3 linked regions of the Homo sapiens genome follow. The gene in region 2 interacts genetically with the main gene of each other region. Each region holds a gene or a part of one and is shown on either strand. Other genes may lie near its edges. The genes, in order: PAFAH1B1, NEMF and PSMD1.

Region 1 (3,655 bases), on a different chromosome or scaffold from region 2:
CACACTTAAAAGTATTTCCAGCCATATTGGAAAAAAGCTATGCTCTACTAATCTGAGTAAAACTAGTAACTTTGTACTACAAAAATCAAGTGTAATTCTATGCACAACCAAATTCAGCCTAACAGAGGTATACCAGCACAAAGATTATTTACTTTTTGTTTTTTTTTTTTGAGACGGAGTCTCGCTCTGTCGCCCAGGCTGGAGTGCAGTGGCGCGATCTCGGCTCACTGCAGGCTCCACCTCCCAGGTTCACGCCATTCTCCTGCCTCAGCCTCCCGAGTAGCTGGGACTACAGGCGCCCGCCACCACGCCCGGCTAATTTTTTGTATTTTTAGTAGAGACGGGGTTTCATCGTGTTAGCCAGGACGGTCTCGATCTCCTGACCTCATGATCCGCCCGCCTCTGCCTCCCAAAGTGCTGGGATTACAGGCGTGAGCCACCGCGCCCGGCCAAAGATTATTTACACTTTAATTTAAACCCACAGAGAGATCACCTAAAAGAAGACCACAGAGGAAATAAGCCATTACACAGAAATGCTTCTCAAGGACATAGAGTCTCTCCTTACAATGTCTCTGTGCTCCTTTTTGGGAGACATGTACAGATCAAACTTAGTTTTAAAGTATATTTAATATGACTGTCATAATGATCATTCCGGGTTAAAGTCGAAGTGACTGCAACACCAGAACACAATTTTGTTTTTTATAAATATGTCTTTAAGCTGATGCCTTTTCTTTTTTTTTGAGACGGAGTCTCACTCTTGTTGCCCAGGCTAGAGTGCAATGGCACGATCTCGGCTCACTGCAACCTCCACCTCCCAGGTTCAAGTGATTCTCCTGTCTCAGCCTCCCAAGTAGCTGGGAATACAGGTGTGCGCCACCACACCCGGCTAATTTTTGTATTTTTAGTAGAGATGGGGTTTCATCATGTTGGCCAGGCTGGTCTTCAATTCCTGACCAGGTGATCTGCCCACCTTGGCCTCCCAAAGCGCTGGGATGACAGGTGTGAGCCACTGCACCTGGCCGCTGATGCCTTTTCAACTAAACTTACTTACCCAGTTTGCACTTCCCACATTTTTATAGTTTTATCCCTTGAGGCAGACACTATATGATCTCCATTGGGCATGATGGCTACTGAAGAAACATTGTGGTCATGGCCTAAAACACATAACAGCAATATATTATGAAGTAATATACCACCAAGAGCAATGAAACATCAATTGACCATGGGATTTTACCATGGGGTTTCACTATGTCAAAGCAAGTTCTAAATACACTGGATTTTATACAAATTGGATAAGAAACCTGGATTTACACGATAAAGTTAAAAAAATCAGTAAAACAACAACCCACAAGGAAATAGTCAACTCCATTTAGGATTAAATTTCAACCTGTACAAATGGTTTAAAAACAAAAGGCATCACGATTATCAACATTTGAATATATTCATATACTTACCTCAGTGAGTCTGAATGTTTACATATGAACGCTAGGGAAACATTTTTTTTTTTTTTTTTTTTTTTTTTTGTGAGGCAAGGACTTGCTCTGTTACCCAGGCTAAAGTGCAGTGGTGCAATCATAGCTCACTGTAGCCTTGAACTCCTGGGCTCAAGAGCTCTTCCCGCCTCAGCCTGTCGGGTAGCTGGAACTACACAGGTGTGTACCACCACATCTGGTACCACCACACCCACAACTATTTTATTTTTTGTAGAGACAAGGTCTCCATATTTTGCTCACACTGGTCTCGAACTCCTGTCCTCAAGCAATCCTTCCTGCCTTGGCCTCCAAAAGTGCTGAGATTATAGGTGTGAGCCACTGTGCCTAGCTTCTAGGTTGATATTCTAAGATATAAAAAAGATAAAGCAAATGGATACAAAAAATGGGGAATTGGTTCTCTGTTTAAAATGGTGGGCCAGGCGCAGTGGTTCATGCCTGTAATCCCAGCACTTTGGGAGGCCGAGGCGGGCGGATCACCTGAGGTCAGGAGTTCAAGACCAGCCTGGCCAATATGGTTAAACCCTGTTTCTACTAAAAATAAAAAAGTTAGCCGGGTGTGGTGGTGCTTGCCTGTATTGCCAGCTACTTTGGAGGCTGAGGTGGGAGAATCATTTGAACCTGGGAGGTGGAGGTTGCAGTGAGCAAAGATTGTGCCACTGTACTCCAGCTTGGGTGACAAAGCAAGAGGCCATCTCCAGAAAAAAAAAAAAAAAAAAAAAGGTGGTGTTGGGGGTAAAAAAAAAAAATGCATTAGAAAGAACTCTTTTTAAAGTTACAGCTAGAAGATACAGGCAACTTAAAGAAAAATAAATGATAGACCTTACGTGGCTCACGCCTATAATTCCAGCACTTTGGGAGGCTGAGGCAGATCAGGAGGTCAGGAGTTCGAGACCAGCTTGACCAACATGGTGAAACCCCGTCTCTACTAAAAATACAAAAATTAGACGGGCGTGGTGGCGCGTGCCTATAATCCTAGATACTCAGGAGGCTGAGGCAGGAGAATCACTTAAACCTGGGAGGCGGAGGTTGCAGTGAGCCAAGATTGTGCCACTGCACTCCAGCCTGGGCGACAGAGTGAGACACAGTCTCAAAAAAAAAACAACCAAAAAACAACAACAAAAAAACAGTGTTCATGCGTGGAATTCCTGTAATTATAAACTTCCCCAATGCATTTAATTTGGGACAGAGAAAACACAACCTTCAAATTATGCCCTCTAGGTAAACACAGTTTACTCATGTGTTAACGTGTTCCTTGTACAAAATCCCAACATTCAAATGTCATCATGTATAAAGAAACAACAAAAATCCCTAAGTAATGAGCATCTCCTATGTGGCAGGTACTACACCAAGATGATTTATCTTATGACTTCATCTTATCCTCATGACAACTCTATGACTCTGGTATTATTACCTCTGTTTTGCAGATGAAAGAGGTTTAAATTTTCTAATACCGTAAGTAGACAAGTAGGAATTTGAACCCAGGTGTCTGACTCCAAAGCAAATTACTCTCTTTCCACAAAACATACTGCCTCAGAAAACAGTTCCCACAACAAGACCCGGGAAATAATGAACGAGGGCATGGGGTCTGTGCGCTCAGCTCATTTCACTTAAGTGAGCAAGAGAATCTGGGCTCGTTTTCACTCGACCTACTCTCTCTGGACTTCAGTTTCCCAACTAACAAAAATTAAAACACAAACAAAACCATTTTTAACTCAAATACAGATAAATGACCTGGCAGTTTTTCTTACCAAGAAATACTCATACAAATATTTTATGTAAAGTACTAAAAGATACTTAAAACTTCCTAATAGAAAGCACTCTCAACTACTGTGGCTTATCCCTGGACTATCTACATGGTATGCTCTTCCACCAATACTGACAATTAAGAGGTGAATAAAGGAACACTGTACACTGTTAGAAACAATATTCCTTCTGAAGTACCATGATAGAAATTACTGTTAAAGCACTATCCTCTACCCCTTACCGTGCATGGTTCTGATGCATTCAAAGCCCTGAAAATCCCATAGTTTAATGGTCATATCTGCAGAACAGGAAGCCAGAAGCTTGCCGCTGTGGTCGAATGAAATGTCCTGTACAGAGTCTGTATGTCCTTTAAGAGTTCGTTCAAAATCTCCAGTCTCATAATCCCACACCTGTCAAGT
Region 2 (2,603 bases):
GCTAGGTGTGGTAGCATATGCCTGTAGTCCCAGCTATTCAGGAGGCAGAGGATGTAGTGAGCTGAGATTGCACCACTGCACTCCAGCCTGGGTGATAGAGCAAGACTCTGTCTCTTAAAAAAAAAAAAAATACATGGGGAAAAAACAAGAACTGTCAATTAGACTTGCAGTAGCACTGTATAACAAAGATGAAGAAATCAAATCATCCAAAAAAAGCTTATTAAACACTGATAATTTTCTCTTGTTAATCTCAGAACAAAATGCTAAAGGAAATGATACAGTCAAAATTCATGTTCAAAGCCTGCATTTTTTCCCCAAGTATCTAAACCAAGTATAGTCATGCAAGTAAGACTTCATTTGCACAAATGATCTCTCCATAAAACTACCAGGCTTTCTGAGACTTTATAGTTTACTCAAGCAGGGCTTTCACCATCCCTCAGACGTTCTGTGTAAGGCCAGTTGGCCCTACCTATGGAAGAAGAAGGCATATACTACTCAGCTCCCATACGATTTTTATTGCTAACAAAGACCTAGAGAACAGATCGTTCAGTTCAAACTCCTCATTGCATAAATGAGAACGACCAGAGAGAGAAAATAATATCCAGATAAAATAGATATTGATTGATCTGCTTTTGCTACTTTCCCTTAAGATTTTACTTCTCGCCATGATGTTTTGGTCTGAACTACCTTAAGATCGCTAGTCTTTATTTCATAGCTCTATTCTGTAGTATAAAATGGCCAACTGGTGTTCTGGGTGGCTTCAAACTCGTTTTTGTTTTAAATGCAGGTTATGGCACACAGCTTGTGCCAGCGATGAAGGAGAAGTAATTGTTTTTGGTGGATGTGCCAACAACTTGCTTGTCCATCACAGAGCTGTAAGTATACTACCTTCACATTATTACTGAAACTTACTTGCAAAGCATTTGCTTTTAAATGTGTTCTTCCTATTTATTTTTCAGGCACACAGTAATGAAATACTAATATTTTCAGTTCAACCAAAATCTCTTGTACGGTAAGTAACTTTGTACTTGGCACTTAGATTATTTAAAATTGTGTTTCCTAAGACTTAGCACTCTCGAAAAACTAGGTTTATGGATTATTTAAGGGCAATAAAACTTCATTGCTATAACCAGTTCCTATGAAAATCTTTGAAGAAAGAAAGAGGGATGTTTTATGTAGTTTTTCAAGTGAATGTACTTCCAAACAGTAAAGTGAAATTACTTTTCTCTTTCCTTGTCCACTTTCAGGCTAAGCTTAGAAGCAGTCATTTGCTTTAAAGAAATGTTAGCCAACTCATGGAACTGCCTTCCAAAACACTTACTTCACAGTGTTAATCAGAGGTTTGGTAGTAACAACACTTCTGGATCTTAAGGCTTCATAAATAATGCCTATGATCACCTTGCATGGACAGCAATCCTGTAAACATCACAGAGTGGCATCATTTGTATAATTATATGCATTGTTGTAGTTTGCACCTGTTGGTTTTAATGTGCATGTGAATGGCCTAGAGAACCTATTTTTGTGTCTAAAGTTTACAATAAATGTATTTAACACCAGTAGCTGTCCTCTATTAAAGTAAAGTAATGGTTGGGCTTTTTACCCTGAAGAATGGTTGCTACATTTTCTTTTCAGTAACTTCAGGATATGTATCTGTAGAAACATTATAGTCTTACCATCATCAAAATGCTGAAGTCATTTTTTGAAAACATTATAGATTTTTTTTTTTTTAATGGCAAGAGTAGTCTATAGTTATGTAACCTAGTGTTGTAAATACAATATAATAAAGGTTTTTTTTTTTAAACATTAATATTCACATTATGACGAAGCTGGAAAAACAAAGTGTGGAGGGACCAACAACTGTTCAGTACTTTGACCTTAATGCTTCAGTGTAGGGGCTGGAGCAAGTGGTCATGCTGAATACAGGCAGGTGCTGTCCAGTCAATTAAAAAGTTTTTTTTTAATTAATAGGTTTTATAGCTCATGAAGGAATGGAAATAATGATGACATCATTTTCCATTCTGTTAAGAGACAGAGGAAAAGTGGGTTAGAGTCTTTAGTGGTAAGCCTAAAATGCGCTTCTGGTATTATAGGTTAAGATACTCTAACGTGCTATATTGGTAATTAATTACTAAAGGTGGAAATTAAAATGGTACAGAACTGAATCAGATTACAAGGAAAAAATTAAGATCAAACCTGAAGGTCTACAAATGAATAGAAATGATTAAGCTGAGTCATGAGAATTATTACTTATATTTTACATTTTGGTCTAATATTTTTTTCTGACAAGTATCAATGAAAGCAGAAGAAAATCCACTCCAATACTTAGTTTTCAAGACACAATCCTAAATATTTAAACCCCTTGTAGCTGGCCTATAATATATATATATTAGATGTTATATACAGTAGACTTACCAAGTCAATAGTTTAAGCAATCAAGCCACTTCACTGTTCAGTTTCTTTACATCATGAAATGAATACTTGGTATTAACCTCCCAAATTTCAAGAAAATGTAGAATAACTACAGATGTATATAATTAGCATTTAACTGTCCACAAATACTTTAGGAAATCCTATCATAGTGTTTCCTCTATATAAAACTGGGA
Region 3 (3,820 bases), on a different chromosome or scaffold from region 2:
TTGTGATCATCTAGACATCGCTGGAACATTTTATTTACGATGCCTTCCAATCTCTGGTCAATTGGTTTTTTTTCTCCTTCAGGCAAATCTGCATTTTCCACACATTGTTTGGTGTAGTGATCAATGCATTTTGCTGTTGAGGAAATAAAATAACTGATTATCTTGTAAATTGGGCTAAACTATCAGAAAGGGCAATGCCTATATTTATAATCATATATACTTATGGGATGACTATAAAGCAATAAGCAAATTTTGAAATGCTAGAACTTATGCATTTGAATACTGTTCTCCCATAATATTTACACCGGAGAACTACACATTAATTCCAATCCAGTTGACATTATTCAAAACATTTCTATCTGCCAGGTGTGGTAGTGCTCACCCACAGTCCCAGCTACTCGGCAGGCTGAGGCAGGAGGATCACATGAGCCCAGGAGTTCAACGCCAGCCTGAGCACCACAATGGGACCCTGTCTCTTATTTAATTTATTTTTAAAGTTTCTATCTTGTTACTCCATTTTGATCAAAATTTTATTACTCTACCCGATTAAGCTGCTTATTCAAAAGAACTGGCTACAAATAGCTGCTGCTTCACTTTCAAAAAACAAACATTTGCCATTACTGAAGATATTTTAAAAGGCCTATTATAGCAATTATCACATAGTAGTATATCGGACTTCTTTGCATTAATGAAACTATTAGCAACCTGAGAGTAAGAACTATGTCTAAATTGTCTCTGTAGGGTAATGGGGAAATGACTTGAAATGTGCCACAAGTTTAAAAGGCAGTTCCAAAGATTTCCAAAAACTTTTCCAGCAACTGTAGCAGATCCTTTGAAAAACAGTCCTGTGTCGCTTAATGACAGTAATACATTCTGGAAAACACATCTTTAGGTGATTTCATCATTGTGCAAACATCATGGAGTGAACTTACACAAACCTAGATGTTATATAACCTACTACATACCTAGGCTCTATGGTATGGCCTAGTGCTTCTAGGCTGCAAACCTGTATAGCATATTAGTGTATTGAATACTATAGGCAATAGCATTTGTGTCTAAACACAGAAAAGGTACAGTAAAAATATGGTATTGTACTCTTATGGGACATCTGTTGTCTATGCAGTCTGTCATTATGTGATTCCTGACTCTATTTATTGTCTCAATGTGAGGTAGGTGGAACCTATTTCTCCCAAGAAGGTGTCTGAAAATTCATGCAAAAGTGTTTGTGCCCAATTTAGCTTCCATATTTCACAATGATTTGGGTGCATGGAGGGGAGGGTGTGACATACTGAAGGATATCAATAGCACACCTGATAAGAAACATTTGTTTGCAATTTAGTTATATCTTTGCAATCACACCTTAAACTTTCTAAGTACAACCAAAAGAAGGACATTTCCCTAAGCCTTCCACCTTCATAAGGAAGATAAAACAGTCACCCTGGCCGGGCGCGGTGGCCCACGCCTGTAATCCCAGCACTTTGGGAGGCCGAGGCGGGTGGATCACGAGGTCAGGAGATCGAGATCATCCTGGCTAACACGGTGAAACCCCGTCTCTACTAAAAATACAAAAAAAAAAAAATTAGCCGGGTGTGGTGGCGGGCGCCTGTAGTCCCAGCTACTCGGGAGGCTGAGGCAGGAGAATGGCGTGAACCCGGGAGGTGGAGGTTCCAGTGAGCCGAGATCGCGCCACTGCACTCCAGCCTGGGAGACAGAGCGAGACTGTCTCAAAACAAAAAACAAAAAAACAAAAAAACAAAAAAAACAAAAAAACAAAAAACCCAGTCACCCAAGAGGAATGACATATACATTAATTATCCTCTCCATAATTCATTGGCTTGTTTCTTTCCCTTTCAAAGATAAGTAAGAAGACGAGGGCAAGATTTATTAGTTACAAACCATAGCCCCAAGAAATAAAAATAATTTTAACTAGCATAAATGATTGTTGGCCTACTAGATGACCCGGGTTAAATGGGTCTATATCTTGAAGGAAGCAGAGGACTTTTATAAATTGGAATATACTACATTCAAGATTCAGCTGGAACCATGAAGGTTCAGGTACAGTTAATAAGAACATAGTGGGTTGGGTCAGTGGCTCACATCTGTAATCCCAAAATCTTGGGAAGCCGAGGCAAGTGGATCACTTGAGGCCAGGAGTTTAAGACCAGCCTGGCCAACATGGCAAAACCCCATTTCTACAACACAAAAATTAGCCAGGTGTGGTAGTGTGCACCTGTCATCCCAGCTACTTGGGAGGCTGAGGCACGAGAATCACTTGAACCAGGGAGGTGGAGGTTGCAGCGAGCCAAGATCGTGCCATTGCACTCCAGCCCGGGCAACAGAGAAAAACTGCCAAAAAACAAACAGACAAACAAAAAAACACAGTGGATGTTATAATGCAAAATAGACCTTAAAGAATTCCAGTTGTTGAAAATGTCCACCAGGCCCTAATGTGAGCTTTTTGAACCAACTGTAGCTAAGTGAGGAAACATTACCCCTACCCCATCAGAGAGGAACCTCAAAATTAGAACATTTGGGGAATTTTCCTTAGATTATATAACTGAAGGGGAAAAATGTATGTCCCAGGTTTCAAATGAGATTCATGTTCTCATTCACCAGGTTTGCATATATGTCATAAATATATCCCAGGTTTATGTTATAACTAAAACTCAGCCTCATTTCCTGCTAAAGCCTTGTCATAACTTGGAGATTTATGAGTCCTGGATTTTCTGGAGGTACTGTTTACGATATTCATTAAGACGCTAGGAAGCCTTACCCAAATTCTGTTTTGTATACCCCCTCATGAATCTCACTGACATCTTAAAAAATGTGCCCTACAAAACTAGAGGAAGGGTGAACCCCACTTTTAAATAAATAAATGCAAACAGAACTGGTCTACTGATCAAAACTCACCTTCCAAAGGTAAAATGATACAGTGTTTAGAAGGCATCTACCATGCCATAGCACTTCATACCAACAGTCCAGTTTAAAAGCACAATTTGTACAATGGTGGCATTTTAAGCATTTGTAGATCACTGTTGTAAAAAACCATAAACCTTCATTAAAGAAAAAAAAAAGGCTGGCTGTGGTGGCTCACGCCTGTTAATTCCAACACTTTGGGAGGCCAAAGCAGGAGAACTGCTTGAGGCCAGGAGTTTGAGACCACCCTGGTCAACACAGTGAGATCCTGCCCTGTTTTCAAAAAAAAAAAAATCCATCAAATAAAAGAGATAAGTAAGGTATTTCACCCCCTGCTTCTAGCTTAAAGTGAAGAAAGTAGTCTAGTTTCAAATAATACGGTCCATCCTTTTAAGCCATCAGTTCTTCCCACTGGATTCACAGATGACAGCTCAATTCAATGAGCCTCCAACAGCAATAAAGTAACTTGCAAAATTTTCACATCATCATAGCAAAAACTTTAAAAACATGAACACAGAATCCCAAGGACAGTTGATGGTACCTCTATCAACCCCCTTGTGCAGGACTTCCCAATTTCTAAAAGAGAATACCAACTTCCTCCTTGTAAGTGTTCAAGTGAATAATACAGACCTTCTACTAATCAGCAATGTGAAATATCTGCACTGCACACTCCTGACAGAACATGCCCTTGAGCTCTCTGTACTATGAATCCAAAGTCTGATAAACACATGTCTGAAGGGTATGCAGTCCCTTCTTTCATTTACTACATCAACAGTTTTCAAGCATTTTTTTACACTATAAAATCTTTGTATCAAATCTTACATAACTAGTTGAATTTACAACTCTGGTTGAAATATGTGTCAGAAAATTCAAAGCCTTGCCTGTGTGTTATCCCCTTCCTTCA

The links.
Region 1: changes in NEMF (region 2) and PAFAH1B1 together harm fitness more than expected from each alone (negative genetic interaction), as found in Homo sapiens cells (one large-scale study listed by BioGRID).
Region 3: changes in NEMF (region 2) and PSMD1 together harm fitness less than expected from each alone (positive genetic interaction), as found in Homo sapiens cells (one large-scale study listed by BioGRID).

What each region holds. Positions count from the first base shown.
Region 1 is NC_000017.11:2,670,154-2,673,808, reverse strand, and holds part of PAFAH1B1 (platelet-activating factor acetylhydrolase IB subunit beta), read right to left. Parts: intron 3,647-3,655; coding exon 3,478-3,646; intron 1,155-3,477; coding exon 1,052-1,154; intron 1-1,051. UniProt on the Homo sapiens protein: Regulatory subunit (beta subunit) of the cytosolic type I platelet-activating factor (PAF) acetylhydrolase (PAF-AH (I)), an enzyme that catalyzes the hydrolyze of the acetyl group at the sn-2 position of PAF and its analogs and participates in PAF inactivation.
Region 2 is NC_000014.9:49,781,583-49,784,185, forward strand, and holds the end of NEMF (ribosome quality control complex subunit NEMF), read right to left. Parts: 3' UTR 1,372-2,603; coding exon of another isoform or gene 1,248-1,371; 3' UTR 1,013-1,247; coding exon of another isoform or gene 960-1,012; 3' UTR 876-959; coding exon of another isoform or gene 788-875; 3' UTR 501-787; downstream 1-500. Other genes in the region: KLHDC2 (kelch domain-containing protein 2), read left to right, coding at 788-875, 960-1,012, 1,248-1,371. UniProt on the Homo sapiens protein: Key component of the ribosome quality control complex (RQC), a ribosome-associated complex that mediates the extraction of incompletely synthesized nascent chains from stalled ribosomes as well as their ubiquitin-mediated proteasomal degradation.
Region 3 is NC_000002.12:231,063,219-231,067,038, reverse strand, and holds part of PSMD1 (26S proteasome non-ATPase regulatory subunit 1), read right to left. Parts: intron 134-3,820; coding exon 1-133. UniProt on the Homo sapiens protein: Component of the 26S proteasome, a multiprotein complex involved in the ATP-dependent degradation of ubiquitinated proteins.